Regions from separate parts of the Homo sapiens genome. Here region 1 is linked to region 2. Evidence: fine-mapped expression QTL. A gene starts in region 2. The other region holds a variant in brackets. All regions are shown on one strand. Distances are between the middles of the regions.

Region 1 (16,297 bases), 32 kb after region 2:
AGTCAGATGATGCAGCCCCAGTCACATGCAATCAAGTCTAGGTTCTTGATATTCTAGTTACTTAAAGATTGTCAAGCAAGAAGTCATTTCTTCCCCGGCTATGCTATTCAAAGGTTCATGAATCTTTTGGATTTTGTATATTTTAGAAATTCCAGAATTTATCAGTAGGAACCAGAAATAGAATATCCAGCAGGAACGGCATGATGTATAAAAAAATATAGTCCTTTTTGTACATTCCCCTCTTCCATTATTCTAACTGTATCTACCTTCAAATCACACCTAAGATTTCAGGGATAGACCCTTTACCTCGAAGATAATGAAACCCATCAGATTATAATTTTTTTTTTGTTATGGACAATTCCCTTCCCTAATATTTCTCAAACTGAAGGTTGTAATCTACTTCAAAGAGTCGTCCAAGGAAGGCATGGTGATCGACGAGTTTCAAATAACTATCAAATACATTTATTTATCCTAAAAACGTTGACAGTAATGATAGAAATACTCATTTTTAAAATTCTTGAATTCTGATACATAGTTCTATTTTAAAGTCCTGAAATACCAGTATTTTTTTATTGGTATACTACAATTATACCACTATTTTTGGAAACTAAGGTCTGAATTATTAACTTCTTTTTTTTGAGATGAGGTGTCATCTGTTGTTGTTCAGGCTGGAGTGCAGTGGTGCAATCACGGCTCCCTGCAGCCTCAGATCCCTGGGCTCAAAGAAATCCTGTGAGCATGGCACTGTACCCAGCTGATTTTTTAATGGTTTGTAGAGACAGGGCTTTGCTTTGTTGCCCAGGCTGGTCTCAAGCTCCTAACATCAAGCAATCCTCCTACCTTGGCCTCCCAAACTGCTAGGATTACAGGTGTGAGTCACCATGCCCAGCCTTTATTTATCTCTTAAAATGAAAGTCATTGACTAAACTATTCAATTTTGTGCCAAAAAAAAGATGAACTAATGTGCAGTCTTCAAAACTGATAGGATTATTCTGGAAAATTTTGTACATACACACACAAAAAAAGAAGCATTGATGACTTTTGTTAAAAACACCAAATAATATGTCATTTTAAATGTTTATGAACGATTAATTTCTTATTTCAATATAATGCTTAGTTGATTATTTGTAATAAAAGTTTATTTTTGTTTATGTGCTAATCCATTAGGATGTGATATAGTTTGGATATTTGTCCCTACCCACATCTCATGCTGAGTTGTAATCCCCAATGCCAGAGGTGGGGCCTGGTGGGAGATGTTTGGGTTCTGGGGGTGGGTCCCTCATGGCTTGATGCTGTCTTCTTGAGAGTGAGTTCTCATGAGATCTGGTTATTTAAAAGTGGGTGGCACCTCCCTGCCCACTGTCTCTCACTTGTTCCTGCTCCTGCTCCTGCCATGTGATGTGCCTGCTCCCCCTTTGCCTTCCGCCATGATTGAAGCTTCCTGAGGCCTCCCAGAAGTAGAAGCCGCCATGCTTCCTGTATAGCCTGTAGAACCACAAGCCAATTAAACTTTTTTTAAATGAATTACCCAGTCTCAGCTATTTCTTTATAGTAATGCAAGAATGGCATAATACAGGATGATAATATGTTGAAGGTTTATAGATTCAAAAAATGTATTTTAGTTAATTTGAAAAATAATGTAAGAAACACATGATAAATATTCAATTACGTTTGTGAAATACACTAAATCCCTACCTGCTTATTTCCTAGCTGGGCTGCTATAACACAGTGCCACTCACTGGGTGGCTTTTACTGCTCACAGTTCTGGAGACGTGGACATTTACAATGAAGACTGATTAGGGCCAGTTTCCTGATTCACAGATGGGGCCTCTCGCTGTGTCCTCACATGGCAGAGGGACAAACAGGCTCCCTCTCTCTCTTTTATATGGGCACTGATCCCATACATGAGAGGTCCACTCTCAGGACCAAATCACCCCCTTGAGACCCCACCTCTCAACACTATCACCATAAGGATTAGCCTTCAGCATCTGAATGTGTGGGGAGGAAGCACAAACATTTAGATCACAGCGCCCTGTCCCTGGTTTCCCAAAGTTCACATCTTCCTCACGTGACAAGTACATTCATTCCATCCCAACAGCCCTACAAGTCTTAACTCGTTCCAGCATCAACTCAAAAGTGTGAAGTCCAGAGTCTCATTTAAACATCGTCTAAATCAAATACGTGTGTGATTTAAGGTAAAATTCATTGTGAGACAAACTGCTTTCCAGCTGTGAGCCTGTAAAATCAAACATGTTATGTGTTTCCAAATTCAATGGTAGGTGTTATGGTTTGGACTTGTGTCCCCACCCAAATCTCATTCAATTATAATCCCCGGTGTTGGAGGTGAGGCCTGGTGGGAAGTGATTGGATCATGGGCCGGAGTTCTTAAGAATGGTTTGGTACCATCTCCCTTGGTACTGCATAGTGCGTGAGTTCTCATAAAATCCAGTTGTTTAAAAGTGTATAGCACTTGTCCTTCTCTCTCCCTCCTGCTCCAGCCATGTAAGATGCCTGCTTCCCCTTTGCTTTTCACCATGATTGTAAGTTTCCTGAGGCCTCCCCAGAAGCTGAGCAGATGCCAGCATCATGCTTCCTATACAACCAATGGAACTATGAGCCAATTAAAAAATACTTTCCTTATAAATTACCCAGTCTCAGGTATTTCTTTGCAGCAGTGTGAGAATGAACTAATACAGCAGGATAGGCACAGGATAGACATTCCCATTCCAAAAGAAACAATAGGAAAGAAGGAAGGGGAATGGGTCCTAAGTTCAAAACCTGAAGGCTGAAGAAAAATCTTTTTGACTCAATGTTCTGCCTTCTGGACACACTTCGTTGGTGGCTGGGCCCCCAAGTCTCTGGGAAGCTCCATCCCATGGCTTTGTTAGGCACTGGCAACTCTCATGGGTTGGAGTCAAATGCCTGTGGCTCTTCCAGACTGGAATTCCATGCTGGTGGCTCTACTAGGCTAGGGTCATGGGGCAGCCCCACTCCTTTTGGCATTTCCCTATTGTGGACATCTGCAGTCGATTCACCCTTGAGGTGACCCTCTGCCTGTGTCATGTGTCTGAGGCTCTGGGTGGCTCCAGCTTTTGAAATTGAGGTGGAGGTAGCCATGCCACTGTAACTCATGTGCTCTGTGCACCAGCAGAGATAGCACCATATGGACACTGCCAAGCTTTATAGCCTTTGACCCCTAGAGGAGAGGCACCGGCTCCCATACCACCTGGGGCATCAAAGAGCATTGTGCTGGGATGTAGGGAGCAGAGCTTTGAGGTTATTCTGCCCCTCAGGCCCTGACACTGAGTCTGTAATGGGAGGGGAAGTGCCAGGAATCTGAAATGCTGCTAGGATCATTCTTCCACTCTCTTCGTGAATATCTCCTGGTTGATCCACACCAATCTTCTTATCTAATGATTGCTTTGCTACACTCTTTGTGCTCTCTCCCAAACACACTTTCTCATTTTTTTACAATATGAAAAGGCTGAGAATTTTCCAAATTTTAAGTTCTGCTTCCCTTTTGATGAGAAAAAATCTGTCCTTAAGTCATTTCTCTCTTTTTACATTTTACTATATAAGATTTCAGGAGAAGCCAAGGCATGCCTTTAACCCTTAGCTTAGAAATTTCTTCAGCCAAGTATTCTATTTAATTCCTCTCATGTTCTACCTTCCGCAAAACACTGGGACACAAACACAATTTAGCCAAGCTCATTGCCACTTTATAACAGGCATTGCCATTCCTCCAGTATCCAATAGTATGTTACTCATTTCCATCTGAGACCTCCTTGGAATGGCTTTAACTGTCCATTTCTATGAACATTCTGATGACAACCACTTGGACCAGCTCTCAGAAGACTCAGGCTTTCTCTACAGCTCTCCTTATCTCCTCAGAGCCCACCCAGAATCCCCTTTAGTGATCTCTTTGTGGCCATGCAGGCTTTTTTCCAGCAAAACTCTTCTAGGCTTTCCCCATCACCCGCTTCCACTTCCATCTTTTAGGTATTGGTTACAGCAGTACCCCAGTCCTCAATACCAATTTCCTTAGTCTGTTTGGGCTTCTGTAATAATATACCATAAGCTGAGTGCATTATAAAGAGAAGGAATTTATTTCTCACAGTTCTGGAGGCTGAGAAGTCCAAGGTCAAGGAATAATTGGTGTCTAATAAGGCCCCATTTTCTGACTTGTGCATGTAGCCTTTTTGCTGTGTCCTCACATGGCAGAAGGGACAAAAGGCCTCCCTCCAGTCTCTTTTATAAGGGAACTAATTCCACTCATGAGGCTCTTCCCTCATCACCGAATTACCTCCCAAAACGCCCACCTTTCCACACCATCACATTGGGTATCAGATTTCAATATACACACTTTGAGGGGACATAGACATTCAGACCACAGCAGTCATTTTTCTTTAGTGGAGAAAGAAACTCGTAAGTGTGCCCCTCAGGGGATCGTTCATCACCTAGATACTTTGCCTGCAATTAAGATACACTCTCACCAGGGGGCGTTATAGTCCAGGCAGCTATTTCTCCATAGGCATTGTTACCACCAGGAAATCCAGTTACACTTACATCTAACTACCCTCTTTTAATGAGAATATATCTCAAGAACATGAAGTTATTCTGATGCTGCTAAATGTAAAACAGTAGGTCACTTGTCCACACTCACCTGAGACTGAGGCAGTGCCACGCTGGGCCTGAGTGTCTTTCATTTCCTGGTGTTGGACTTTGAGCCATTAGAACCGTGAGCAGCTTGCAGTGTGTCCTTGGTGGGCCCAGCTTTCTGGGGTTACCAGCTGCAAGGTGGCGAGTATTCAGCTTGCCTCTGAAGAGCCTTTGTCTTGCTTTCCGGAGGTGATGGCCAACCGCACAATGACTAAAAGCTCCTTTCCTCTGAAGAGGAATCAGGGCTCAGATCTGCGACATAGCCCTTGAAAACTGAAATTTGGCTTTTTGCCCCCTTATGGATTTAGCCTGAATGTCTTCCGGAGTCTAAGGATATGTTGTCTGTAGTCTAAGGATATGTTTTCTTGATGATGATGTTACTGATGGAGGGAACAATTACAGCTTCCATTTATTGAGGGTTGACCATACATCAGGTGCTGTTTTGCTTTCATCATCAGTAGTTAATTATTACTAGTAATTGTTTGTATGACTTTCTAGAGGGTTTGCTTTAATATATTCAAATAAATACACATTTCTACTCCTCTTTTACTTAAATGGTAGCATACTATATACACTGTTCCATACCTTGCTTTTTTCTCAATAATTTACCATGGAGTACTTTTCTCATTAATATATAAGGAGGGGTTTTTTTTTTTTCTTTTGAGACCAAGTCTCTGTTGCCCAGGCCAGAAGGCAGTGGTGCAATCTCGGTTCACTGCAACCTCTGCCTCCCAGGTTCGAATGGTTCTCCTGCCTCAGCCACCCAAGTAGCTGGGATCGCAGGCATGCCTGGCTAATTTTTGTATTTTTAGTAGAGATGAGGTTTCACCATGTTGGTCAGGCTGGTCTCGACCTCCTGACCTCAGGTGATCCACCCACCTCGGTCTCCCAAAGTGCTGGGATTACAGGTGTGAACCACTGTGCCCAGTCAGGGTTGTTTTTGTTTGTTTGTTTGTTTTTCTTTAAAAAAAACAACAACAATTGTATAATGTTCTTCTGTAAGGAAGTGACGTTTATTTAACCTATCCCCAACTGAAGGGTATACCTGTTGTTTCCGATCTTGCTATTACACACCGTGCTGTAGTGAATGCCACATGAAACTGTATACATCACATAGGGACAGATGTATGTCTGCCATTGTGATGGGCTGTGACAATTTACACTTTTGAGCAATACATAAAAACACTTACTAGATGCTTCTCCCCACCCATCCCAGTAGTACTAACAAATTATTGAATCTTTCCCAGTGCTGCAAACATGTTGTCTCATTTAATTCTCACACCAGCCTGTTTACTGGGCGTACAATTGCCGTGGTTCAGAACTGTGCCGTGAGCTCACCTGGCTGGGGAGAGAGGGCTGGTTCTCAAGCAATGGTGTTATGCTGCATTCCCAGTAATCCCTTTATCTTAAATTTGGTTAGGATGTTTCTCTAATCAGATGTGCAGAAGGTTATCATTTTATTCAATTATATATATATATGTATAAATATACACACAGACGTATACCCTGCCTCTTACAGTATATTTATTCAACCTGACTTTTGAAAGGTTAAAAATAAATTTGTAGCACCTACATATCCCTATTAAAGTACTGAAACTTCCGTTTTATTAATGGGGTTTCCTTTTCTTCTTGGCTGTGGATTTTTAGATAGTTACCTTTAATGTATTATCAATTTCTGTCTTGAATCCAGGTAATCAGATTTTGTAAGTAAGAAAATATGAGGGGAGGGGCCAAGATGGCCAAATAGGAAAACTTCTGGTCTGTAGCTTCCAACGAGAACAACGCAGAAGGTGGGTAATTTCTGCATTTTCAACTGAGGTACCCAGTTCATCTCACTGGGACTTAGGCAGTGGGCCCAACCCTCAGAGGGGGAGCAGAAGCAGGGTGGGACATCAATTCACCTGGGAACTACAAGGAGCTGGGGGACCTCCCTCCCCCAGCCAAGGGAAGCTGTGAGCGACTGTGCTACCCAGCCCGGATACTACACTTTTCCCCTGGTTTTTGCAATCTGCAGATCAGGAGCTTCCCTCTTGTGCCTACACCACAAGGGCCCTGGGTTTCAAGTGGCTGTTTGGGCAGACACTGAGCTAGCTGCAGGAGTTTTTTTCATACCCCAGTGGTGACTGGAACCCCAGCAAGACAGAATCATTCACTCTCCTGGAAAGGGGGCTGAAGCCAGACAGCCAAGTGGTCTCGCTCAGCAGGTCCCACTCCCACGGAGCCTCGCAAGCTAAGAACCATTGGCTTGAAATTCTTGCTGCCAGCACAGCAATCTGAAGTTGACCTGGGACAATCAAGCTTTGTGGGCGGAGGGGCATCGCCATTACTGAGGCTTTGGTCGGTGGTTTTCCCCTGACGGTACTGAGGCTGGGAGGTCTGGACTGGACAGAATTCACCACAGTGTGTCAAAGCAGCTGTGGCCAGACTGCTTCTCTAGATTCTTCCGCAATGGGCAGGGAATCTCTGAAGGAGGTTAACAGCCCCAGTCAGGGGCTTACAGACAAAACCCCCATCTTCTGGGGACAGAGCACCTGGGGGAAGGGGCAGCTGTGAGCGCAGCTTCTGTGGATTTAATCATTCCTGCCTGCCTGCTCTGAAGAGAGCAGCTGGTCCTGACAAGAGGGATTCTCCCAGCACAGCGCACCAGCTCTGCTAAGGGACAGACTACTTCCTAAGTGGGTCCCTGACCCCCCCTGCCTCCTGACTGGGAGAGACCTCCCACCAGGGGTCAACAGACACCTCATATAGGAGAGCTCTGGCTGGCATCAGGCCAGTGCCCCTCTGGGACAAAGCTTCCAGAAGAAGAAGCAGGCAGCAATCTTTATTGTTCTGCAGCCTCCACTGGTGACACCCAGGCAAACAGGGTCTGGGATCTGCAGTGGACCTCCAGCAAACTGCAGCAGACCTACAGAAGAGGGCCCTGACTGTTAGAAGAAAAGCTAACAGAAAGCAACAACATCAATATCAACAAAAAGGACCCCCACACAAAAACCCCACCCAAAGGTCATCAGCCTTACAGATCAAAGGTAGCTAAATCCATGAATATGAGGAAAAAGCAGCACAAAGTGCTGGAAATTCCAAAACCTAGAATGCCTCTTCTCCAAATGACCACAACTCCTCTCCAGCAAGGGCACAAAACTGGACAGAGAATGAGACTGATGAATTGACAGAAGTAGGCTTCAGAAGGTGGGTAATAACAAGCTCCTCTGAGCTAAAG[G/A]AGCGTGTTCTAACCCAATTCAAGGAAGCTAAGAACCTTGATAAAAGGTTACAGGAACTGCTAACTACAATAACCAATTTAGAGGGGAACTTAAATGACCTGATGGAGCTGAAAAACACAGCAGGAGAACTTCATGAAGCACACACAAGTATCAATAGCCAAATGGATCAAGCAGAAGAAAGGATATCAGAGATTGAAGATCAACTTACTGAAATAAGGCGTGTAGACAAGAATAGAGGAAAAAGAATGAAAAGGAACTAACAAAGCCTCCAAGAAATAAGGAACTATGTGAAAAGACTAAACCTATGATTGATTGGTGTACCTGAAAGTGATGAGGAGAATGGAACCAAGTTGGAAAACACACTTCAGGATATTATCCAGGAGAACTTCCCAAACCGAGCAAGACAGGCCAACATTCAAATTCAGGAAATACAGAGAAAACCACTAAGATACTCCTCGAGAAGAGCAACCACAAGACACATAATCATCAGATTCTCCAAGGTTGAAACGAAGGAAAAAATGTTAAGCACAGCCAGAGAGAAAGGTCAGGTTACCTATAAAGTGAAGTCCATCATACTAACAGTGGATCTCTCTGCAAAAACCCTACAAATCAGAAGACAGTGGGGACCAATATTCAACATTCTTAAAGAATTTTCTTTTCTTTTTTTTTTTTTTTTTGACAGAGTCTCACTCTGTCACCCAGGCTGCAGTGCAGCGGCACAGTCTCAGCTTACTGCAAACTCCACCTCCCAGGTTCAAGCTATTTTCCTGCCTTAGTCATCCGAATAGCTGGGACTACAGGCATGTGCCACCACACCCGGCTAATTTTTGTATTTTTAGAAGAGACGGAGTTTCACTATGTTGACCAGGCTGGTCTCGAACTCCTGACCTTGTGATTCATCTGCCTCAGCCTCCCAGAGTGCTGGGATTACAGGCATGAGCCACCGTACCCGGCTAAAGAAAAGAATTTTCAACCCAGAATTTCATATCCAGCCAAACTAAGCTTCATAATCAAAGAAGAAATAAAATCCTTTACAGACAAGCAAATGCAGAGGGATTTTGTCACCACCAGGCCTTCCTTATGAGAGCTCCTGAAGGAAGCGCTAAATATGGAAAGGAAAAACTGGTTCTAGCCACTGCAAAAACACACCAAAATATAAAGACCAATGACATTATGAAGAAACTGCATCAACTAATGTGCAGAATAACCAACTAGCATCATGATGACAGGATCACACATAACAATATTAACCTTACATGTAAATGGGCTAAATGCCCCAATTAAAAGACATGGACTGGCAAATTGGATAACGAGTCAAGACCCATCGATATGCTGTATTCAGGAGACCCATCTCATGTGCAAAGACACACATAAGCTCAAAATAAAGGGAGAGAGGAATATTTACCAAACAAATGGAAAGCAAAAAAGAGCAGGGGTTGCAATCCTAGTCTTTGATAAAACAGACTTTAAACCAACAAAGATCAAAAAAGACAAAGAAGGACATTACATCATGGTAAAGGGATTAATGCAACAAGAAGAGCTAACTATCCTAAATATATATGCACCTAACACAGGAGCTTCCAGATTCATAAAACAAGTTCTTAAAGACCTACAAAGAGACTTAGACTCCCACACAACAATAGTGGGAGACTGTAACACCCCACTGTCAATGTTGGACAGATCAACGAGACAGAAAATTAACAAAGATATTCAGGACTTGAACTCACCTCTGGACCAAGCAAACCTAATGGAAATCTACAGAATTCTCCACCCCAAATCAACAGAATATACATTCTTCTCAGGGTCACATAGTATGTATTCTAAAATTGACCACATAATTGAAAGTAAAATGGTCCTCAGCAAATGCAAACTAACAGAAATCATAATAAACAGTCTCTCAGACAACAGTGCAATCAAATTAGAAACCAGGATTAGAAAACTCATTCAGAACCATACAGCTACATGGAAATTGAACAACATGTTCCTGAATGACCACTGGGTAAATAACGAAATTAAGGCAGAAATAATGAAGTTCTTTGAAACCAGTGAGAACAAAGAGACAACGTACCAGAATCTCTGGAACACAGCTAAAGCAGTGTTAAGAGGAAAATTTATGGCACTAAATGCTTACATCAGAAAGCTGGAAAGATCTAAAATTGACACACTAACATCACAATTAAAAGAACTAGAGAAGCAAGAGCAAACAAATTCAAAAGCTAGCAGAAGACAAGAAATAAGATCAGAGCTGAACTGAAGGAGATAGGGCCATGAAAAACCCTTCAAAAAAATCAATGAATCCAAGAGCTGTTTTGTTTTTTTTTTAAGAAAAAATTAACAAAATAGACCACTAGCTAGACTAATAAAGAAGAAAAGAGAGAAGAATCAAATAGACACAATAAAAAATGATAAAGGGGATATCACCACCGATCCCACAGAAATACAAACTACCATCAGAGAATGCTAGAAACACCTCTACACAAATAAACTAGAAAATCTAAAAGAAATGGATAAATTCCTGGACACATACACCCTCCCAATACTAAACCAGGAAGAAGTCGAATCCCTGAATAGACCAATAACAAGTTCTGAAATTGAGGCAGTAATTAATAGTCTACCAACCAAAAAAAGCCCAGGACCACAGAGATTCACAGCTGAATTCTACCAGAGGTACAAACAGGAGCTGGTACCATTCCTTCTGAAACTATTCCAAACAATAGCAAAAAAGGGACTCCTCCCTAAGTCATTTTATGAGACCAGCATCATCCTGATACCAAAATCTGGCAGAGACACAACAAAAGAAGAAAATTTCAGGCCAGTATCCCTGATGACCATCATTGCAAAAATCCTCAATAAAATACTGGCAAATTGAGTCCAGTAGCACATCCAAAAGTTTATCCACCATGATCAAGTCAGCTTCATCCCTGGGATGCAAAGCTGGTTCAATACATACAAATCAATAAATGTAATCCATCACATAAACAGAACCAATGACAAAAACCACATGATTATCTCAATAGATGCAGAAAAGGCCTTCGATAAAATTCAACATCCCTTCATGCTAAAAACTCCCAATTCACTAGGTATTGATGGAACACATCTCAAAATAATAAGAGGTATTTATGCCAAACCCATAGCCAATGTCACAGTGAATGGGCCAAAGCTGGAAGCATTCCCTTTGAAAACTGGCACAAGACAAGGATGATCTTTCTCACCTTTCCTATTCAACATAGTATTGGAAATTCTGGCCAGGGCAATCAGGCAAGAGAAAGAGATAAGGGTATTCAAATAGGAAGAAAGGAAGTCAAATTGCCTCTGTTTGCAGATGATATGATTGTATATTTAGACAACCCCATCATCTCAGCTCAAAAACTCCTTAAGCTGGTAAGCAACTTCAGCAAAGACTTCAGGATACAAAGTCAGTGTGCAAAAATCACAAGCATTCCTATACACCAACAATAGACAAACAAAGAGCCAAATTATGAGTGAACTCCCATTCACAATTGCTACAAAGAGGAAAAAATACCTAGGAATACAACTTACAAGAGATGCAAAGGACCTCTTCAAAGAGAACTACAAACCACTGCTCAAGGAAATAAGAGAGGACACAAACAAATGGAAAAAACATTCAATGCTCATGGATGGAAAGAATTAATATAGTGAAAATGGCCATACTGCCCAAAGTAACTTATAGATTCAATGCCATGCCCATCAAGCTACCAGTGACTTTCTTTTCAGAATTAGAAAAAACTACTTGAAATTTCATATGGAACCAAAAAAGAGCCCATATAGCCAAGACAATTCTAAGCAAAAAGAACAAAGCTGAAGGCATCACGCTACCTGACTTCAAACTATACTACAAGGCTACAGTAACCAAAACAGCATGGTACTGATGCCAAAACAGATATATAGACCAATGGAACAGAACAGAGGCCTCAGAAATAATGCCACACATCTACAACCATCTGATCTTTGACAAACCTGACAAAAATAAGCAATGAAGAAAGGATTCCCTATTTAATAAATGGTGCTGGGAAAACTGGCTAGCCATATGCAGAAAACAGAAACTGGACCCCTTCCTTACAACTTATAAAAAAATTAACTCAAGGTGGATTAAAGACTTAAATGTAAAACCCAAAACCATAAAAACCCTAGAAGAAAACCTAGGCAATACCATTCAGGACATAGGCATGGGCAAAGACTTCATGACGAAAACACCAAAAGCAATGGCAACAAAAGCCAAAATTGACAAATGGGATCTAATCAAACTAAAGTGCTTCTGCACAGCAAAAGAAACTATCATCAGAGTGAACAGGCAACCTAAGGAATGGGAGAAAAATTTTGCAATCTACCCATCTGACAAAGGTCAAATATCCAGAATCTACAAGGAACTTAAACAAATTTACAAGACAAAAACAAACAACCCCATCAAAAAAGGTAGGCAAATGATATGAATAGACACTTCTCAAAAGAAGACAGTTATGCGGCCAACAAACATATTTAAAAAAGCTCATCATCACTCATCATTAGTGAAATACAAATCAAAAACCACAATGAGATATCATCTCACGCCAGTTAGAATGGCAGTTATTAAAGTCAGGAAACAACAGATGCTGGTGAGGCTGTGGAGAAATAGGAATGCTTTTACACTGTTGGTGGGAGTGTAAATTAGTTCAACCATTGTGGAAGACATTGCAACGATTCCTCAAGGATCTAGAACCAGAAATACCATTTGACCCAGCAATCCCATTACTGGGTATATAACCAAAGGATTATAAATCATTCTACTGTAAAGACGTATGCACATGTATGTTTATTGCAACACTATTTACAATAGCAAAGACTTGGAACCAACCCAAATACCCATTAATTATAGACTGGATCAAGAAAATGTGGCACCTATACACCAAGAAATACTATGCAGCCATAAAAAAGACTGAGTTCATGTCCTTTGCAGGGAGATGGATGAAGCTGGACGCCATCATTCTCAGCAAACTAACACAAGAACAGAGAACCAAACGCCGCATGTTCTCATTGATAAGTGGGAGTTGAATAATGGAACACATGGACACAGGGAGGGGAACATCACACACCGGGACCTGTTGAGGGGTGGAGGGCAAGGAGAGGGAGAACATTAGGACAAATACCTAATGCGTGTGGGGCTTAAAACCTAGATGACGGGTTGATAGGTTCAGCAAACCACCATAGCACATGTATACCTATGGAATAAACCTGCACATTCTGTTCATGTATCCCAGAACTTAAAGTAAAATTTAAAAAAATATACAAATATATATATATAATTCAGTCTGCAAGTTTTAAGATGTTTTGTGGTTGGATGAGATTGTAAGTGTAAAGCAAATATGTGAAAAATGTGTCCTGTGTTTTATTCCTGTTTGAGCGAAGTGATTTTTTTGTCTACTGAAGATCTTTTATGACAACAGGAATCATATTTGAATTTTTTTTTCTTTTTTGAGACAGAGTCTCGCTCTTTTACACAGGATGGAGTGCAGTGGTGTGATCTTGGCTCACTGCAACCTCCGCCTCCCAGGTTCAAGTGATTCTCATGCCTCAGCCTCCCAAGTAGCTGGGATAACATGCATACGCCACCGTGCCTGGCTAATTCATATTTGAATATTATCTGCTTTTATGTTTTTTATTATTTTATATTAAGTTTGAATAGTGTACTTTATTTTAATTGTCTAAAGAAAGTTACTGTTTAGTTTAAAATACTTCCATTTTTGCTTATAAAAAGTCCAGAAACAAATTGACGTCTAAATGAGACAAAATTCATCATCTCATTGTTGTCTGGTGATGGAAATGCAAATGCAAATGGATGTGTAAATTTTATGGTACTTTACCTTTAAAAATGTTTTTTGAGCTTTAGTTCCCTGGCAGACAGTTGAGAGGTCACCTCCCTGCTGTAAGACCAGTACAACAGAGCACCTATGTGTACACACATGCCCTCCCTGGCCCAGAAGAGACATATTCCTTGAGTACTCAGAGTGCTAGCTAAAGGATTTTGAGCATACTGAGACTATGGCAATTAAAAACATAAACAAATGAACTGAAAACAATGACAATATTTATCACATAAACCCTTTTCTACTTGTTGTCTTATCAATGTCTCTAGCTTAGTTATCAGAATTCACTTATAGTACATAGGCAAAGTATGTACATAGTACAAAGATCCATTATTTTATTAAGTGACTTTCTTTTTACTTCTTCATCACATAAAAATGGGGACATTATATTGCTTTCTTTAAAAGGTTATGTTATCTGTGAGTCCTATTAGAAGACAGCAAAGGAGCATTATAAAATATGTGTTACAGTGGGGTGCTGGGTCTGAGACAGCTGAAGCTGTGTTTATCAACGCACTGTTCGTAGCATCACTATTCTCAGGGGGTAGGCATTTTTATCAGGAAACTTCTATTTCTAGTGGGAGTAATTTCGGAAAACAGGACAGAGAGATTCAGGCTGAACAGAAAATTTCCAGGGTTCCTCTGACCCTGCCCCGCAGATGGCTCCTGGGAAAGGCTGATTAATCAGCTGGGTCCGGACTTCTTAAGTCTAAAATATGATGATTTTAAGTCAAGCATGGGATTAGAACAGTGGTTATCAGCCATGGAGGTAATTGCGCCTGTCTCAGGTTCTTGGGAAGGGAAGGGAATCACTCATCCCTGACGGCTTCCTGGGCTGCCCCTGGGCAGAGGCTGGAAGAGCTTGCGTTCTCTGGGCCACATTGCTAAGATTAATAACACGTATGGACACAGTGCAGGGCCTGTGGGATTTTTCACTTACTCCCCACCACTGACAGCCTCAGTTCCGTGTCTGAAGACCGTGTGCCACCCTCCCTGACTCTGAAGAGCCTTGCACCAGGTTCACAGGCTCCTGGAGACACTGAAGTCTGACCTGGTCGCCAAGCCACTCCCTGAAGGAGCAGAGTGAGCTCCAGCCCCACTGCCCATTAGCAAATCGAAGTGGGGAACAAAGACAGCTGCTGGGGGACTTGGGCAAATGGCCTGTTTCTGTCCAGCGTAGCCTGGGTGATCACTCACAGTGGCGACTTCCTTTGCCTTAATCAGTCAGTGGAGCCATCGCTGACGTTCTTGCCTTTTCTTTCTTGCAGGACGTTGACAAAGGAACGCACGCTGACACTCCCACATGAACAGCTGGCTGCTTCCCAGCGTCCTACGGGAGAGCTACCGGCTTCTAGGCAATGCTGCGTGTGATCTGTGGGGGAGCCTGGCCACTCCTGGAGGTTCCAAGGTCAAAGAAACGCATTCCGGATGCGACGGATTTGATCTTGGAAAGCTGCTTTGAAGATACGATAGCTATTCCCTATTGTTCACTTTAAGGCAAACAATGTATACATTTTTCTGTGTCAGGCTCCTCTGTGAAGTTAGTGAAACGGTAGCTTAGTTTGCTCCCATCTCCTGTTCCGCGCTGCTGGTTTTCGATTGTGCGTCACTGAATTGCCATCAGAAGTCCAGTCCCGACTGCGTGTGCGAGGCCAGGGAGGGAGGTGAGAGGCGGCCTCTCGGACACACTCTGCTGTGATCTTTGATTCAGGAGACACCCTCTTTGTTGATGATCCCTAAGAACTAAAGAGAGACTCCAGCATCACCCTTTCTCCTGGTGCCCTGTCCATAACTAAGCATCCAGGAATGTCCTCTGCAGGCATTTTCTCTGCTCATCCTCGCAGCAATCCTGTGAAGGAGACGTTTTCTCCATTCTATAGGAGAGGACTCTGAGGTTCAGAAAACTCAAGTCAGAGAACACGTGAGCTTGGACTCCGTTGCCTGACCCGCGTCGGACTGTAGGCTGCTGTTGCAGCTGTGTGGCTTTGGGTGCCTGGCCTGGGTGCTATGTGTTCACAAAATGCACTTCCCTTCCACCCTAGGTTCAAGGTGAACTCCGATCCCAGCCTCTCCTGTCAGGCTCAGCAATGGAAATGAGCAGAGGGGCCCTTTGTTCCATGCAGGCTGAATCCAGAACCTTCTGAGGACTTGAAGCCCTTTTATGCGGACAGGATGGGAAGTTAAGCGAAAGTTAACTTCTGTTGGATTAAGACCCTGAAGATTGGGCTTTAACACCTGTTGTGTTACCTGCACTCAAACAAACCAGGGCTCCTTACTCAGCCCTCAGGAGCCTTGGCATTCTCACCTCTAAAGCAGGAGGAGTCGTGATAACTGCCTTGAGGAATTTGAGCAAAGTTAAATGACCTGAACTATTTGGGCGTGTCTTGACCAATGTCCGACCTTGGGAGGTGCTGGATGAATTTTTATTTCTCTACTTTAAGTCAGCCTTTCTACCTTGTTGCTCTTCTCAGCTGCCTTTCTCTGAGCCTCCTTCATCACTCTGTTCATTTCTGTGAGACAAAGATCATTACAACTGCCTTAATATTTCGGTGCAAGACGCAC
Region 2 (16,297 bases):
CTGGAAATACTCCCATCCTCACACCATTTGTGAATCCTCCCAGCCTCCATGGCGTGGTTGAAGCTGCTGGTGATGTCCTGGGATTCTGGGTCTTTCTCTCAGCCCACGTCTCCACCTGGGGCATGTGAGTGGCCTGACTACTCATCCAAGACTGTCGAGGGTCTGCAGGGCCCCTGAACAGCAGCATCTGATTGGGCTAAGGCACCCTCATTTTGCACCAGAGTGAAGGAGAGCAGCAGCTCTGTGACTGATCACTGTCTTCCACTCTTTCTATCAGGGCGACAAAGCTAGGTGAGCCCGAGTGCGGAGAATCTGGCCTGTTCCACTCTCATAGTCAGGGGGATCGTGTAGGTCCTGGTTCAGAACACACTCGTGTGAACTGTGCACACACACACTCACACATGCACACACACATCCTTTTTATTTTCCAAGTTCGTAGGTCCTTTTCCTTTCCCATGAGCCCTCTGCAGCCTGGGATACAGCACCCACTTCTACAGTCATCCACACTATTTATTGAGCGTCTACCCTGGACCAGGTATGCTTCCCAAGGTACTGGGGTACCACACTGATAAAAGAGCCGGGGGTCTCCATTCTCACAGAAGCCTAGTTCTAGTGGAGGAAACAGACAGTGAACAACTAAGCAAAACAGAGAATTCAAATTCCCATGGTGAGAAGAAGTGCGATCCCAAAATTAGAGCAGCAGATGGAATGATAGGGAGTATGGGGCAGGTACACACGCTATCCACATCGCATCTACACATGGGTGACAGAGCAGCACCCGGGTTTGTAGAGAGCAGCTCGGCTGGACCCAGGCATCACCAGGTCTGCAGCTCAGCAGCCCTTTCTGCCAGCCCCGCAAAGTGGAGCAAGTGGCTCTTTGGGTGGAAAAGATCCAGCTGCGTGCAGTGATTAGCCGAGGAAGCCGTGCTGTGATTGGACAGGTGACAGCGAAGTACGACTGTGACTTGACAGCCAAGGAAGCCGGCCTGTGATTGGACAGCTGAGGGCCAAGTACCTCTTTGTCTCCTGTGCCTTGATGAGCGGCAGAAAGTGCTGATGCTGCTGGAATTTCCTGGGGATTTTTTCTATCAATTATTTTTGTCTATGCAGACAAAGACACAGTGATAGTAAATTATGTCCAAAAATCTCCAAAGATTTCGTGCCTTTGCTCTCACAACCACAAACATCCATACAATTTGAACTCTGTCCTCAAGCGAGATAACGCCATCCTGGGTGACGTGACCTATTTGCAGTCCCTTCGCTCCAGCCGCTATTGCAGCGCGTGGCTTCTAAAATCTCAGCGAGTGTCAGCAGGTGAGACTGAGGCATTTTCCCCGTTTGTTTCCAGCTACGGTGCAATGACCGCCTCTTTTCAGTGGTCCCTTGAGAAGCCACTGTGCCGCTTCTTCCCGCTCAGCGGGCGGTAAGGCCTGTATGTGCAATGTGGGTCTCTCAGCAGCTGCTCCTGCTGGAAACTTCTCCACTGACTTTGGAAAGGATTTGCTGGAAAGCTGTAGAAAGACAGACTGGAAAGGTACTTGATATGATGAAGGGAGAACATCTTGTAAAGACAAGCATTGAAGGTTATTGCTTAAGTTTTGACTAAACATAACATGTATGAAAAATCGTATACATATGCATATGTATACATGAATATAAATAGATACATGTATATATGGACATGCATATATATAAAATATAGGCTCATTGTGTGTGTGTGTAAATATATATCTAGGGAGAGAGAGAGACATCAAACTCTTCTCTAGATAATTAAATTTCTGAGAGGAAAGGGGCGTGTATCCTTTTTTTACTGGATGCACCTATATACTATTCTGTATTTTGTTTTGTTTTGTCTTGTTTTTGAGACGGAGTCTCCCACTGTCTCCCAGGCTGGAGTGCAGTGGTGAGATCTCAGCTCACTGCAACCTCTGCCTCCAAGCTTCAAGAGATTCTCCTACCTCAGCCTCCCGAGTAGCTTGGACTACAGGTGCCCGCCACCATGCTCAGCTCATCTTCCTGTATTTTTAGTAGAGTCAGGGTTTCACTATGTTGGCCAGGCTGGTCTTGAGCTTCTGACCTCGTGATCCGCCCGCCTAGGCCTCCCAAAGTGCTAGGATTACAGGCCTGAGCCACCACGCCTGGCCTATTTCTGTATTTTTAAGAAGAACATCTAATTTAAGAAGAACAAAATTTTTAAGGAAAACTATACTTCTATAAAGGAATTTTCTAGAAAGAACTCTATCAGGTAAGCTAAGCCCCCACCTGCCCTCTGGGCTGCCCATTCTTGTGGTTGAGCTGCTTCCCCAGGCGGCCCCCAGAACTCCCACCGCGGTGGTTGTAAAGAAACTGTGAACCGGAGCGCTCAGGCACCAGACACAGCCACCTGAGACAACGGCAGTGGCAGGGAAGCCGTTTCCACCGCCCTGGCTAACTCTCATCCCCTCTGGCCCCGCAAGCCTAATCAGGCTGCAATCCAGTGTGAGTCCCGGCTTGCCACCAGTCATTTAGGCCCCGGCTCACGTCACCCCCGTGGCTGGCAACTCCTTTTCTCCTGACCGGTTTATGATGAGCTGTAAAGAAGCACACAGTGGGGTTGGTCCCTGGGATGAACCCTGGCAGACAGCTGGCTACATGGCAATCCTGCCTTCAAAAAGTATTTCCTGAATTCTGCACATTAGACAAGGGGAGACCTGTGACAAATGCCAGCCAGGGCCCTTTCCCTTGGCCTAAACGCCATGGCTCAGGGCCAGCCTGCATAGCAGGGAGTGTGCCTGGGCATGGTGTCCCAGATGGTCAGCCACCCTCCCTTGGGCAGGTAACTACACACCTACGTGTCCCACTCAGTGCTGCCCCTCTGCAGTGGTGCCACCTGGCAGGGCCCGAAGGCCCAGACGGTGTGGGAAGGAACAGGTTGGCTTATGCTGGCACAGCCGAGGAGAAAATCAAGCTGATGATGTGTTTTGAGAACTGGAGAGGATTATGGAGAGGACTACAAGGCGAGTAGGAGTTCTGTGCTTACAGCGTGATACCACCAGGGGTCTGGGGTTGGTGGGCTGTGTGCGCTGTGTCCGGCGTTCCCAAGGTAAGGACCCACGGACCTCTGTAGCAAGATCTCCCAATGTTCTCAAGCAGCCACGATTTGTCAACGCACCCACCTGTGGCGACCGCCCTCAGAGTCCCAGACTGTGGGTCTGCACCCCGGACACGGGACCAGGGCCCTTCTCAGGAAAATGGGCTGTGTGTGGGCACTAAAGGCAAGACTCTGTTTTTCCAAGGAATCCCCAATATCCTGTGTTTTTCTTACCCAGTGTGTTCAGTTAATGAATGATATTGAGCTGTGTATTTCCAGTGGCCCGAAAGCCATGATCAGTATCTACTCAAGTGGGCAACATGAGCTCTGTGTGGATAAACCTAATGAACAGGGCTTAGCGGAGAGGATGGGCATGCCTGGCCTTCGCTTTCTAGTCCTCCTCTCCTCTGTCCCCCATCCCTCCCCAGCCCGGATGTTCGGAAGTTGTTTTTAAACCCCTTTACCCCACTGCCTTCACACTGTGTCTCTTATTTTGTAGGAACTGAGTGTCTTGATTTATCTGCTCATCAGCTATTAGTTAACACCAACTGCATGTCATGCACTGGGCCAGACAGTCTCTAGAAGCTCACGCAACTGTTATCCTTGTGATCTATGAAGAAAAATATCACATAAAGTTAAAAAAAAAATAAATACGTAGAAGAAAGATTCCATGCTGCAGTAGAGGGTCTGTAAGTGCTCCTGTGCCCATGGGGGTTCTGGTAAAATCTGCCCCATCCCTAGTGTTTTGAAGATGGAACAAGGCTTGTTCTGCGGGACTGCCCCAGGCCCAGAAGTGAGCAGAAGCCAGAGAGCATTTTGCCCTGGGTTTTGTACTTCGTTTGCATTCAGCAAATATTTGTTGGATTTTAGTAGAATGTACAGAGTCTGCCAAAATAAGAGAAGTATGAACTTTCCGAGAGGAGATTTAACATGCTGTGAGCCCCTGACTCTAGGAAAGTGTTTACTGAAATGCCCTCATGTCAGGAAGACTCAATTTATCTTTCATATGTCTACAGATTTCTTTCCTTTTACCATCTGTGAGCCCTGAAAATCTGAGACAGGTCTCAGTTAACTTAGAAAGCTTATTTTGCCCAGGTTGAGAACGCACCCGTGACACAGCCTCAGGAGGTACTGACGACATGTGCCCAAGGTGGCCGGGGCACAGCTTAGTTTTCTACATTTTAGGGAGATGTGAGACATCAATCAATATATGCAAGAAGTACATTGATTCAGTCTGGAAAGCGGGGACAACTTGAAGCTTCTCAGGAGAGAGATAAGTTTGTACCCCTTTTTGTTACCGACACAGTAAGTTCAAGTTAAGGGCTTGTTGATGGGCATTTCCAGTATCAACCTTGATCCAATCAGGTACCTGATTCAATATTGCTGTATTTCCTTAACAATGAAGCATGCATTTTTTTCCCCTAATTTCATTCATAAGGAAAAAGTGCCTCAATTCTCTGACAGTTCCAAAACACAATTCTTAGTAAAAGAGGCAGATCGTGATCTGTTTGAGTTGTACATCCCCCCAGGCTAATTCACCTGGCGTAGGAGGTGCTCAGAGGCCACCAACATTGCCACAAGGTCCATCTTTGTGGATGGGGTAGGAACAGTGTGCAGAACAAGGGGGCATTGTCTTGGACCCACCGCAAGGACACCCTCTGCAAATGGACTTGGTGAAAATTCCACCCTGGGCCCTGTGGCTATTCCCCTTTCTGTGTGAGGCCAGCAGGGATCAGCTTCCTTCTGTGAAAGGAAAATAAAATCTCGGGAACCCATTCACTATGCCAAAAGGAAAAGTTAAGGCTGGAAGCTGAGTCATGCAAGAAACTGCCTTTCCTTTTGTTCCTAAGCAGATAGCCTCACATAGAAGGCCAGGTGTCTCCACAGGCAGCTGCTCTGTGGTCACCTTATCTTAGATAAGTGCCAACTTACTGAGCATGACATGAATACATAACTGAGTGTTCCCTCTTCCCCTCCTTTTCACACACAACACGTGGATTCAGTAAGTCTAATCAAAGACTCACAAGAATGTGACCCTATGCTCCCTCTTTCCCTTCCTGCTCACTTTTCCTCTTTAAATATTGAAGGCCCAAAATGCTCTTAGAAAAAGCACAGATCTGGGCAACGCGGTGACTCATGCCTGTAATCCCAGCACTTTGGAAGGCCGAGGCGGGCGGATCACCTGAGATCGGGAGTTCGAGACCAGTCTCACCAACATGGAGAAACTCCGTCTCTACTAAAATACAAAATTAGCTGGGCGTGGTGGCGCATGCCTGTAATCCCAGCTACTCGGGAGGCTGAGGCAGGAGAATTACTTGAATCCGGGAGGAGGAGGACGCGGTGAGCTGAGATTGTGCCATTGCACTCCAGCCTGGGCAAAAAGAGCAAAACTCCATCTCGAAAAAGAAAAAGAGAAAAAGAAAAAGCACAGATCACAGATGTTCCTGTGCTTTTGTGTTCCCTGTTCCCAGGCACATCCTCAAACTTGACAGAATAAACCTTTACACTGATTGGGACCAGCCTCAGACACTTTTTGGTTTAGACTTCCTAAGAAACGGTACTGTTGGATCTCTGTGGAGTCATAGTTTGTTACACCAATTCTTTCTTTCTTTGTTATTCACATACAGTGAGAGAGATGACTGAGTCCAGTTTGTTTTATATTTTTGAACTCTGAAATCATGTCAGCTTCCTTGCAGTATAACTTTGACAAAGAGCAAATGTACATTATAAAAAAAGTTTTTCTTGTAATTGTGAGTTCTCAATCACGGGCCCATACTCAATATTCCCATCAAATACAACCCGCTCACACAGCCTGTTATCCTAGGCGTTAACTTTCATCTGAAGCCTCATTTTTGTCTCTTATCTGAAGCCAACTGCATTCCCATTGTCCTGGGGTCCTGTTGGCAGCCACTTCTCCTCCCATAACAATAAGATGCTGTGCAAATTGTGTCCTTTGCTTTGCTCCCCTCATCACTGGTGGACTTGAGATTGTCAGCTGAAATTAAGACTGTTGAGGCAGAAATAATTTTATCACAGTTTATTGAAAGCCAAATGTGAGGTTGGACCTGGGAAGACATACCCACGGAGTTGACAGCATTCTGGAGTCTGTCACAAGGCCAAAGGTTTTTGTAGGAGAGTTTAAATGAGTAGTCTTCTTTCTTTTGGAGGATGCAACTCAGAGGTCACAATCATTACTACAGATTACGACCTGCAGGCTAACAATGTCCACATGAAAACAAATCAGTAAAACTTCATGCTTCAGCTCATCTTAAAATCACAGTGCCCTCTCCAGCGTCAGCAGGTGATACATTGGTCTATACTATACAACAATCATTTGAGGAACTTATGATAAGACAGGGTGCTGTCCCCCGCGACCTCTGGCCAGGTTTCAGCCAGCAAAGGGACCCACAAAGGGAGCCACTCCAGCAGACCTAGACTGAGCGGTCTCGGGGCTCTTTGACTCTCTAAGGACTGAGATATTCATAATTCTTTTTAAATTATCCATGGAAACAGCAGGACAAAAAATGCACAGGGCCTCCTAGTGCCTGGGTGAATGTGCTCAGCCCTCTTTGAAGAGAAACCTCAAGGATACGGAAGTGAAGGCTTTGAAAGACAGGGTTCTATTGAGATGAAGGGTGCCTATTCCTTAACAGCAAGTAATTCATATGCTATTGAAATGAATTTAGCATTTTCCCTTGAAAGCACACAGCATTTTCCCCCTCATTAACAAATGTGCTCCTCCTTCCCCTCCCCCAGCCTCTACAAAGGATTTGAAGGCACCACCTGAGATCAGGGGGCGCCTGCAGGGGGTAGGAGCCGCTCTCAAGGCAGGTGGCCAGCTTTGCTGATCCCGAGACCTCATCCTCGGCTTTTGAGTATCTAATGTACAGTTACATCTGTACCTTGAAACATGAGATTGGGTTTTGAAGTCTCAAACTAATACACATCAATAAAAGGCCAGTGACGGGAACTGAAGAGGAAGTAAGGGCACTGGAATCCTCTCAAAGCAAATACCTTCCTGCGCTCATGGACTTCCTTAAGAACATCGCTTATTACACAATCTCACAGTGAATTGTGGATTGCCTGGTATTGTTTTCTAGGTATTTCATGCAGTCTTGTTTTCCCAGCTGGACTCCACTGAAATTCAGACTAAATTCAACTAACCATCATATGTCAGGCAGTCCTAATCTCTTTCACACATGCCTACTTTTTTTATCCTCCAAGGATAAGGATCTGGCATCTTTGTTGATTTTTCTGTTGCACTGCTCTGCTTGATTTCAAATATACACATAATTTTCGGTGGAAAATTCCATGAGTATTGCACCCTTCGTTTACGGTCATACTCAACTGAATCAAAGAAAGAATATATTTTCTTATTCCTAGTAGCCCATTCTCACTCACATAGAACAAAATATAAGCAATGGGTTAAAAATCTAAACAGAGAGACTGATTTAAGTAATAATAAAACTCTCTTCTCCCGCACAGCTGGCTCTGCGTAAATTACTTTTTCTCTATTGCAATTCCCCTGTCTTGATAAATCAGCTCTGTCTAGGCAGTGGGCAAGGTGAACCCCTTGGGCAGTTACAAATGTGTGGGCTCATCCGGGATTGCCCTTGTGGCTGCCTGCCCATGGTTCAGTAGCCCCCTCTCCAGCGATGGATCCAGAGGCCAGACCAAGCGGCCACGTAGTTCTCTCGGACTAGGGGCTAATTGTGGTATTCTCTCTGCTGGTGGGGCGCTGCCGACGCAATATGCATGGATTTAATTGCAATAGAATTATAGTCCTGGGGAGGCATCTCTTAACTGTAACCCTATCACAGGATGTCTGTCTGTAGCCCCATGGTGGGGTATATGTTTGTAACCCCATTGCAGGATATCTGGGTTGGTGAGTATCCTAGGCATTGCCAATGCCTCCTTCCTTCTGCTGACTGGTTCTGTACCCTCCGGTGGGGTGTCTGTAGCCCCACTGAGGGATGTTGGCTTGTAGCTCCACCATGGGGTGTCTGTGTCTGTAACCCAATTCGGGGTGTCTGTCTCAGTTTGTCTCCTGGGGGTCTCAGTTGGCTCTTTCTTTTATATTTATTTTTTGAGACAGAGTCTCCCTCTGTCACCCAGGCTGGAGTGCAGTGGCACAATCTTGGCTCACTGCAACCTCTGCCTCCTGAGTTGGGATCAAGTGATTCTGCTGCCTCAGCCTCCTGAGTAGCTGGCACTACAGGTGTGCACCAGCATGCCCGGCTAATTTTTGCATTTTTTGTAGAGATGGGATTTTACCACACTGGCCAGGCTGGTCTCGAACTTCTGTCCTCAAGTGATCCTCCTGCCTTGGCCTCTTAAAGTGCTGGGATTACAGGCGCGAGCCACTGCGCCCAGCCTCAGTTGGCTCTTTCTAACTAGTAGAAAGAGTCTTGGTTTGGGAGACTTCTCCTCAATCAGGAAGATTTCGAGGAGATTTCTCAGATGGAGAATAGAAGGACAGTTTGGAAGGGACACTCTTGGAGTTCTTGGTTAGGGATCTGATTTGGAAAACGCTGTGTTCATCTTGTCTTTATGTGTGTTTGTATATGTGGAGGGGATCTCAGAGGGAATTGCTGATGGACGTTCAGCAGGCCTAACTCAGAGAACCCTCCTTATTTGTCTGGTCACATTCGGTGAGCCCTGAAAAATGCTCAGCAGGCCTGTCTCGGGGTGACTATGTGCTCTTCGCCTTGCCCAGAGACCCCATTGTGAATTACCCTTTGGAGGTCATCCCGCCCCAGCTGGGGTGGATCAAAGACAACAGAGACCAACGGGAGAAAGTTTGGGCTTTGCCAGGCTGATAGTGGGTGCTGAATGAGGTGATTCATGTCTGTTTTGTTATGTGTATTTCGCTGGGATGGAAAATGTTAATTGGGTTCCCCAGGCAGCCTGTTGGGCAGCATCTTGCAAATTAAGAATCTTGTCTGTGGTTCCATAACACAGAAAGGGGTGATTTTCTCTTGTAAAGTGGTTTGAACCCCACAGCCATGGCACTAGCGAGCAGGGTCATCAGAGCTGCTCCATTCTTCTGGAAGCTGCAGAGAAAGGGAGCCCGGAAACCTGGTATGCCGGCAAAAAGGGTAAGAAATTCTTACCAGCCAAGTTTCTGGTCTCTCTCTCTTCCTCTGTCTGTGTAAACGGTAATCGTCACTATTTGTCTCTCTGCAAGGGTTTGATTAATAGACAAGGGATTTGTGAGACTACTCTTAGGTTATAGCAAATCTGGTGTACTTTGTGCTGAGAATTTGTCTTTCTGTGTTCTGTAATGGACAGAGGGATAGCACAGGCTAGAACGTGGGTTTAGGACCCCATAACCTGCATTACAAGCCAGCCCAGCAGACTGGTCAGTTACAAATTTTGCTGTGGGTTCCTGAAACCAATACCAGATGAAATATCTCTGTCTTGTTTTGTGTCCTTAAGAGCTTAACCTTGTGACCATGTGCAGACACTTTCTCTTAGATTCGGCCTTAGATTCTCTTAGATTCGGTCTTAGAGGACAGGAATTTTAGAGTTCATGTCATAGCCCTAAAAATTTTCTTGACCAGTTAAAAGCCTTGGCAAGCTTGAAATTGGCTTCTCTAGGACCCTTCTGGGAAAAGCAATAAAAACTGCTCAATGCCATAATACAGTAGCTAAGGCTTTGCCTTTTGATGATGGTGGCCTGGGTTCAATTCTTGCTTTCTGGAATTATTCCTTTCTGATTTGTTAGTTGTGTAATTTTGCCATTTATTGAGTTGTTTTTCCCCCCCCCAGGGAGTTTCTGATTTCTTCTCTTGAATTTTCCTTTCTCTGAACTACCTTGGGAAGATTCTAAATCTTGTAAAAAAGAAACTGCTTACCATGTCTTTGAAGCATCTGGGAGGTCACCTTTGGTAAAGTTCAAAAGCCAGAAATATTGGCCGCCTGGCTAAAGTCGGGTAATAAGAAATTTAAAAGGACTTTTTTTTAAGAGCGCTCTGGTTAAAAGTCAGCTTGATTAAAAGTGGATAAACAAGCTATAGATATATTTAAAAGGCATTTATGTTGTTCCCTTCTTGGATCTTGTTTTTCTGGAAAAAAGGTTTTTTTCTTCTCAGTCGACTTAATTATTTTTCTCAATTTTTTTGTCTTGCTAATCTTAATGCATACATGAGAGGTCCTCTTCTGGTAGCCTGGTACTCCTTGAAAAAAACAGGAGGCACCATAGACCCTGTTTTGGAAAAAAGCTCTGTTTTCCTCATGAAACCCTAGGAACTAAAAGCGGATAGATCCCTCTCAAAATCAAAAGCTCTGCTCTGTTTTGCATTGTGTTATCTGACAGTTTTGAGTTCTTGGGGTTTTAAGAAATTACTTCACATTACGAGAGAGCTTGGGTGTGTAATAACAAGGTAGGAAATACTTTAGGGGATGGCTAGCAGTAGTTATGGAGGGATACTTGACTGCACACTTGGATCAGAGAAGCAAATGCTCGTGGACACCTGGAAGACATGGAAAGGTCCCCACCCTCAGCTGAGAGATGAAGCTCCCGTGGGGGATGGGCTGATTGGCTTTGGGTGGCCTTGCCATGAAATGCACGTAGAAGCATTGCACTGTCTCTTCTCCTGTAGGATTTTCCTCCTTTTGAGGATTCAAGATCCAGTATAAAATGGCACCCTTAACTTTGGGGATCTGTCTTTGCCTTCACCTGTTCCTGCTTATTTGGCCCAAGAATTGCATGCTTTCCTGACTCTGTTCCTTCAAGGGCTCCACCCTGAAGTCAGTAATCCAATTAAGAAAACTGGCAAATGAAAAATGTTACAAGTGCTAAATCTTCTGTATTTCTGTCTGCGTATTTATATGTGTTGGGTGTGTGATGTTTGTATGTAAAAGAGCTCTGATAATTGGCTTAGAAAAATAAGCATGTAAATGAAATATTTTGACAGAAAAAATCTTTAATGCCTTTTTCTTCAAATGGCTTTAGTAATCTTTTGCAAATAAAGACAGTTTTAAAGATTACTGGTAAAATAACATGTCTTGAAAATGTAGGTATTTGGTCTAAATTAAGGTCAGATATCAGATTTGCTAAATGCTTTAAGGTCAAACTGTTTCCTTTGGAAAAATTGTTCAGTTTACCTGCTTTGGAGGATTAGATGACAGAGGAGGCCTGGGGAGCTGTGGAGAGCCATGCCCCTGGCCATGCTGAAAAGAGTCAGACCTCATCTTCACTTCTGCCTGATGTCCTGGGCTCCACCCAGTACATAATTAAAATCACTTACTCATCAGGGTTTTCACTAAAAACAAAAGCTGCTAAGAATTAACAATGTAACATTGAGACCACTGGAGAAACAGCTTTACATACATGGTGTGTAGGGAATGTGTTTTTGATAAAAGATTATAAGAAGGTATGGGAATATGGCTTCTGTTAAAGGGAATGTAATTTTGTCTAGTTCAGAGGGTTTTAAAGATTGTGTTAACCTAAAAGAGTAATGGGATAAAACCGAAGGCTTACTCAAAGTGAAAAGGGTTTGTAAAGGGTTGATTTGTAAAAAAAAAAAAAAAAAAAATTCTGTGGGTATAAACAAGTTGGCTAAGATTTGAAAGAAATTATTTAGCTTTTCTCCATAAGTTAAAACACTAAAACCATACTGATACAGGGCCAGCGTCTGGGCCCACGTGTCCGAATAATAGGGTTTGCTTAGAAAATTGATCTGCTGTTTGATGGAAAATTGGAAAGGGTTCTAAAAAGTTCATGAAAATCTTACCTTATGGTCAAACTAATTAAAACTGGACAGATATATAAAATTTTATTTAAAAACTAGCTTTAGCATTAAAGATGCACTAATGCAAACATGAAATTTGGTTTTCTCTTTTGAAGATGATTTTTATGTAATATTAAAGGATAATGAAAGGGTTTTCTTTCCTCTTTTAGGTAAGTGGCAGGGAAAAAGGGGAGGAGAGAGAAAAGACAGACTCAGTTGGCCTCATGCTATCTTCACTGGGTCTTGTTGGAAAGCTAAGTCTCCTCTATCAGAGTAAAGATTTTTCCTTTTTAAAATTTTTGGAGCTATCATTTTGGCCAAATGGATGACTTATGGTGACCTGGGATGCTATTTTGTGATATTCAGTGTTTTAAACCTTTGATATTTGACAAACGTTCCAAAACCAAATTATAAATTATGTCTCTTTTTAACCTTTTAGATATTAGGTTCTTTAAAGTCCAAAAATGACATTTGGCTTATTTGGTATAAAAATCATACAGAAAGCATTGTCAAATATGACATGGTGTTTGGCTTTCTTTGGGCTATATTTGTGCAAATATGTTATTGACACATATTTCAAAATTATGTAAAACACCTATAATTCTAATATGACTTAGTATAAGTTATCAGTAATAATTATAATTATTATGTTAAATGACTGTGTGCCACAGAGGTAACAAATTTCCTTGCCAATTGTGTCTTTAACTGTGGCTGCCCTAAAATGTTTTGTCATCCACAGGCAATTGTTGTCTCATTTTGGTCCTCTTTTTTTCTTTTTTTTTTTTTTTGGAGATGGAGTTTCACTCTTGTACTCTTGTCGCCCAGGCTGGAGTGCAATGACACGATCTTGGCTGACTGCAACCTCTGCCTCCCGGGTTCAAGCAATTCTCCTGCCTCAGCCTCCTGAGCAGATGGGATTACAGGTGTGTGCCACCATGCTCGGCTAATTTTTGTATTATTAGTAGAGACGGGGTTTCACCATGGTGGCTAGGCTGGTCTCGAACTCCTCACCTCAGGTGATCCACTCACCTCGGTCCCCCAAAGTGCTGGGATTACAGGTGTGAGCCACTGTGCCTGGCCAGTCCTCTTTAAAGGATGGTTTTATAATCAGCTATAAAATTTAACAGGGGCTCTTCAGTGCAGATTTCTGATTAATAACCTGGAGATTGTGACGTTAGAATAGAGAAAAAAACTTTCAAATAGAAGAGTGAATAGTGTTTGGTTGTCTTTGGACTGTATCTGTATAGATATGTTATTAGTATGTGTTTCAAAATTATGGGAAACTTCTATAATTCTGATATAATTTAGTGTTATTAATAATTATAATTTTTATACAAAATTGTTGTATGCCACAGAAGTAAACAAAATTCTAGTCAATTGTAGCTTTAGTAGTGGCTATCTTAAGACTTCTATCATACACAGACATTTCGTCTTGCTTTGGCAGTTTATAATCAGGTATAAGTCTCTTGGGGAATCTGACCTCATACCTCATCTATGCAGTTCCTGTACAAGGTTCCTGACCTGTGGTAAGTAATGAATGTCACTTAGATAACCCCAAGTTACCTTTGGGCCTCAAGAGGAGAGGAATTTACCCAACTCATAGTTATTTGAGGGTACAAACCGATGGCTGGGCTCGGCTTTTAAAAAGTCATATGTGGGATTCCTCATGGAACAGAATTCCATCAAAGCCCATTAAAAAGAGCCTAAGTGAAAAATAATTATTCTTGCTGCAAATGATCAGGCCAAGTACGGGAAGACTAAAGTTGATTTTGTAAACAAATCCGTTCTATCATGATTTGTTTTTAATAAAAATGGGGACTGAAGAGAGAAAAATTATATTTCAAAAGAAAGCTATAGTACACCTGTTGTTAGCTGTTATTGAGGTTTTTTTCTGCAGTTTGGATTAATTCCTAAATTCTTTGTGGGTTAGAAGTCCCCAAACTCATGCTTTCTAATCATTGCTTTTAAAACTGGGAATTGTACTGCTCATCCTAGGACTCGTTATTTACCTTATGGTACACTGTTCAGTTAAATACTGTACTGAAAGTATAGATGAGGGTACTAATGCTTTTGCCATGCAAGGTTTGGAAGCCCAGTCAGACCTGCATGCGTCGCCCAGACAGCAGTAAATTGGTTCACTCCTCTCACCTTGGGGTTCACTCCTCTCACCTTGGGGTTCACTCCCATTCCCACTACGCCCTCTGTCAGCAGGAAGACGCCAGAGCGATCCGCAGTCTTTTCCCATCTTCATAGGCTAACCTCAAGATTAAGGTGTTATAAAACACAAAGGGAGGGATTGAAACTACCTTTGCAAAATTATGACTGAGACAGTGAAAGAAATCTAACTTGATCGACTCCATCTTGCTTCTAACCTGCAAGCTGTCCTTGTCCATTCTTGGACCGAGGCTGAATTAACTTTGGGAGGAACTTAGTTTATAGTTTAAATCAAAGACGGTAACAGCCCTTTCCCAAAGCAGACCTCCTTCTTGCCTGAAGACTAAATTGCCTTTGTAGGGCTAACAATAACCACGAGATAAGAAATCATGGTGGAGGAGTCATGTAGCTGGAGGGTACAAGATTCTGACCCTCCCTAAACTGCTCCTAAGATTAGTGCTTGAGCTATTTTGCCGACCCTGCACTTGATAGATCAGCTGACACCACCCAGATGGATAAACTGGCTCATCTGACTTGCGGCCCCCACCCAGGATCTGACTCGGTGAAAGAAGACAGCTTTGACTCCCTGTGATTTCACCCCTGACCAATCAGCGCTCCCAGCTCACTGGCTTCCCCCGCACCCACCAAGTTTTCCTTAAAAATTCTGCTCACCAAATGCTCAGGAACATTGATTTGGGTAATAACACAATTCCGGTCGCTTGCAAAATTAAAAAAAAATCTAAACAGTACAGCATGTTCTTTATATATTATCTGAAAGATAATTTTCAGAAAAAGGTAAAACAATGACTTGCACCAAGATATTAAAATACACAACTCTTAAAGATTTTATTTTACACATATGATAGAAGGGAACTAGGCAGATGTTAGAAATAGTTTAAAGGAAAAGTGAAAACAATACAAATTTATATGGAGTAAAGGAATTTTGAAATGAGTTGCAAATGGAAAGAAAACTTTTTTATTTATTTATTTTCAAATTTTTTACAGGAGAAAGAAGCCAGTAAAAATCACTACTAGACAGGGCAGAAGATAGATAGATAGATAGATAGATAGATAGATAGATAGATCGATCTATGTCTATATATCTCCATCAGTTACCTGCAATTTGCAAAGAATTGTAAAATAGTTCAAAGACAATGAACAACCCAGAAGTATGTGTTACAGTTTTCCATTGAAACACATTTTTTAAACATATCTAATAGGTATGTCTTAACTAGCGAATTCACACCACTCTTCAGTGAGAGGACTATTTATTGATCATCTGCCTGTGTGTTGCAGGTTGCTGTCTACCTTTTTCAAATTTGAAGCAAAGATTTTCATTAAAAGATTTTCACTAGAATTAATTAAAAATCAAAGCCCAAATCAAAACAGAATACACAGCAAGCTGTGCTAGTGACATGGATGACAACTTCTCCTGGGGATTACAACTCTCAGGGTGACATCCGTGTAGATGATTCTGTAACTGTTAAAATGAAAAACTCCCACCCTGTGGGAACAGAGCCGGGTGAGCCCTGGCTTCCACACAGTGCCACCCTGAGAAGGCGAGGTCTCCCCAGCGTCTGTCTGCAGTGCAGCCAGGGCGGAGGAATGAAGTGTCACAGCAGGAAGCAGATGGCTGCATTTGCAGATAATCAATCTAGAGACTTGCAGCCCTGAGTTTCAGGGGAACTTGTCTAAGTAGCATCCTGTCGCTGGAAGGCATCTAATGAACTAAGTTACTGGTGTTCTTGCTTGTCAGATAGCCCTGGAACACTGTCTGGATTTTATAATCATTTTCTTGAGATTGACAAAGTCTAAATTCTTGCTGATCATTGACGAGTCTAAGTTGTAAAGAATGCTACCCATGGATGGAACTTTTTGCTTAAACTTAAGAAAGGGAGGAGAAATAACAGCAGCGGTGCCCCGTGAAGGTTTCCCAAACATGGAGGAGTCCTGGTATAAACCATGCCTTGGACCCACAGCGGAAGGAGGAGCACAGCACAGCTGGGATCACGAGGACTCTGAAGTCTCCTGGGACGTGACAGGAGCAGGCTCAGCCACTGTGCACAGCGTGCGTCCTTGAGCAGGTCACCTAAACTGCCTGGGTCTCACATCCCTGCCATTCATGGTGTTGGGGCTTGCCCTGACTTTGTACCAAGATCAGAGAGGGGCTTATAGTAGGGAGAACCCAGGCAGCGGGAGGAGGCACTTCCAAGCCCCCAAGGGTAGGCGTGGCCTTCCCGGCCCCCAAGAGTGCAGGGATGCCAGAGGCTGCAGCGGCAGATTTGGGCGACTGCGGGTGTGCAGGGTGGGGGCTCCTGCCTGCGCCATGGAGCTGGAG

Evidence for each region. PIP is the estimated chance that this variant, and not a neighbour inherited with it, causes the effect.
Region 1: its variant is fine-mapped to the expression of HPAT5 in hypothalamus (GTEx, PIP above 0.99).

What each region holds. Positions count from the first base shown.
Region 1 is chr6:167,251,628-167,267,924 of GRCh38, forward strand. No RefSeq gene overlaps it. Among named protein-coding and RNA genes, the nearest start is that of HPAT5, 31 kb to the left of the region's middle. RefSeq lists an enhancer at 16,023-16,297. The variant G/A (reference allele first, on the strand shown) is at 7,877.
Region 2 is chr6:167,219,230-167,235,526 of GRCh38, forward strand. It overlaps HPAT5 (human pluripotency-associated transcript 5), which reads left to right and starts at 9,071. Exons shown (of 4, transcript NR_157263.1): 1 at 9,071-9,168; 2 at 12,598-12,728; 3 at 13,250-13,331. RefSeq lists enhancers at 2,092-2,709, 2,710-3,326, 4,826-5,604, 6,600-7,401, 8,515-9,047 and a silencer at 12,776-12,914.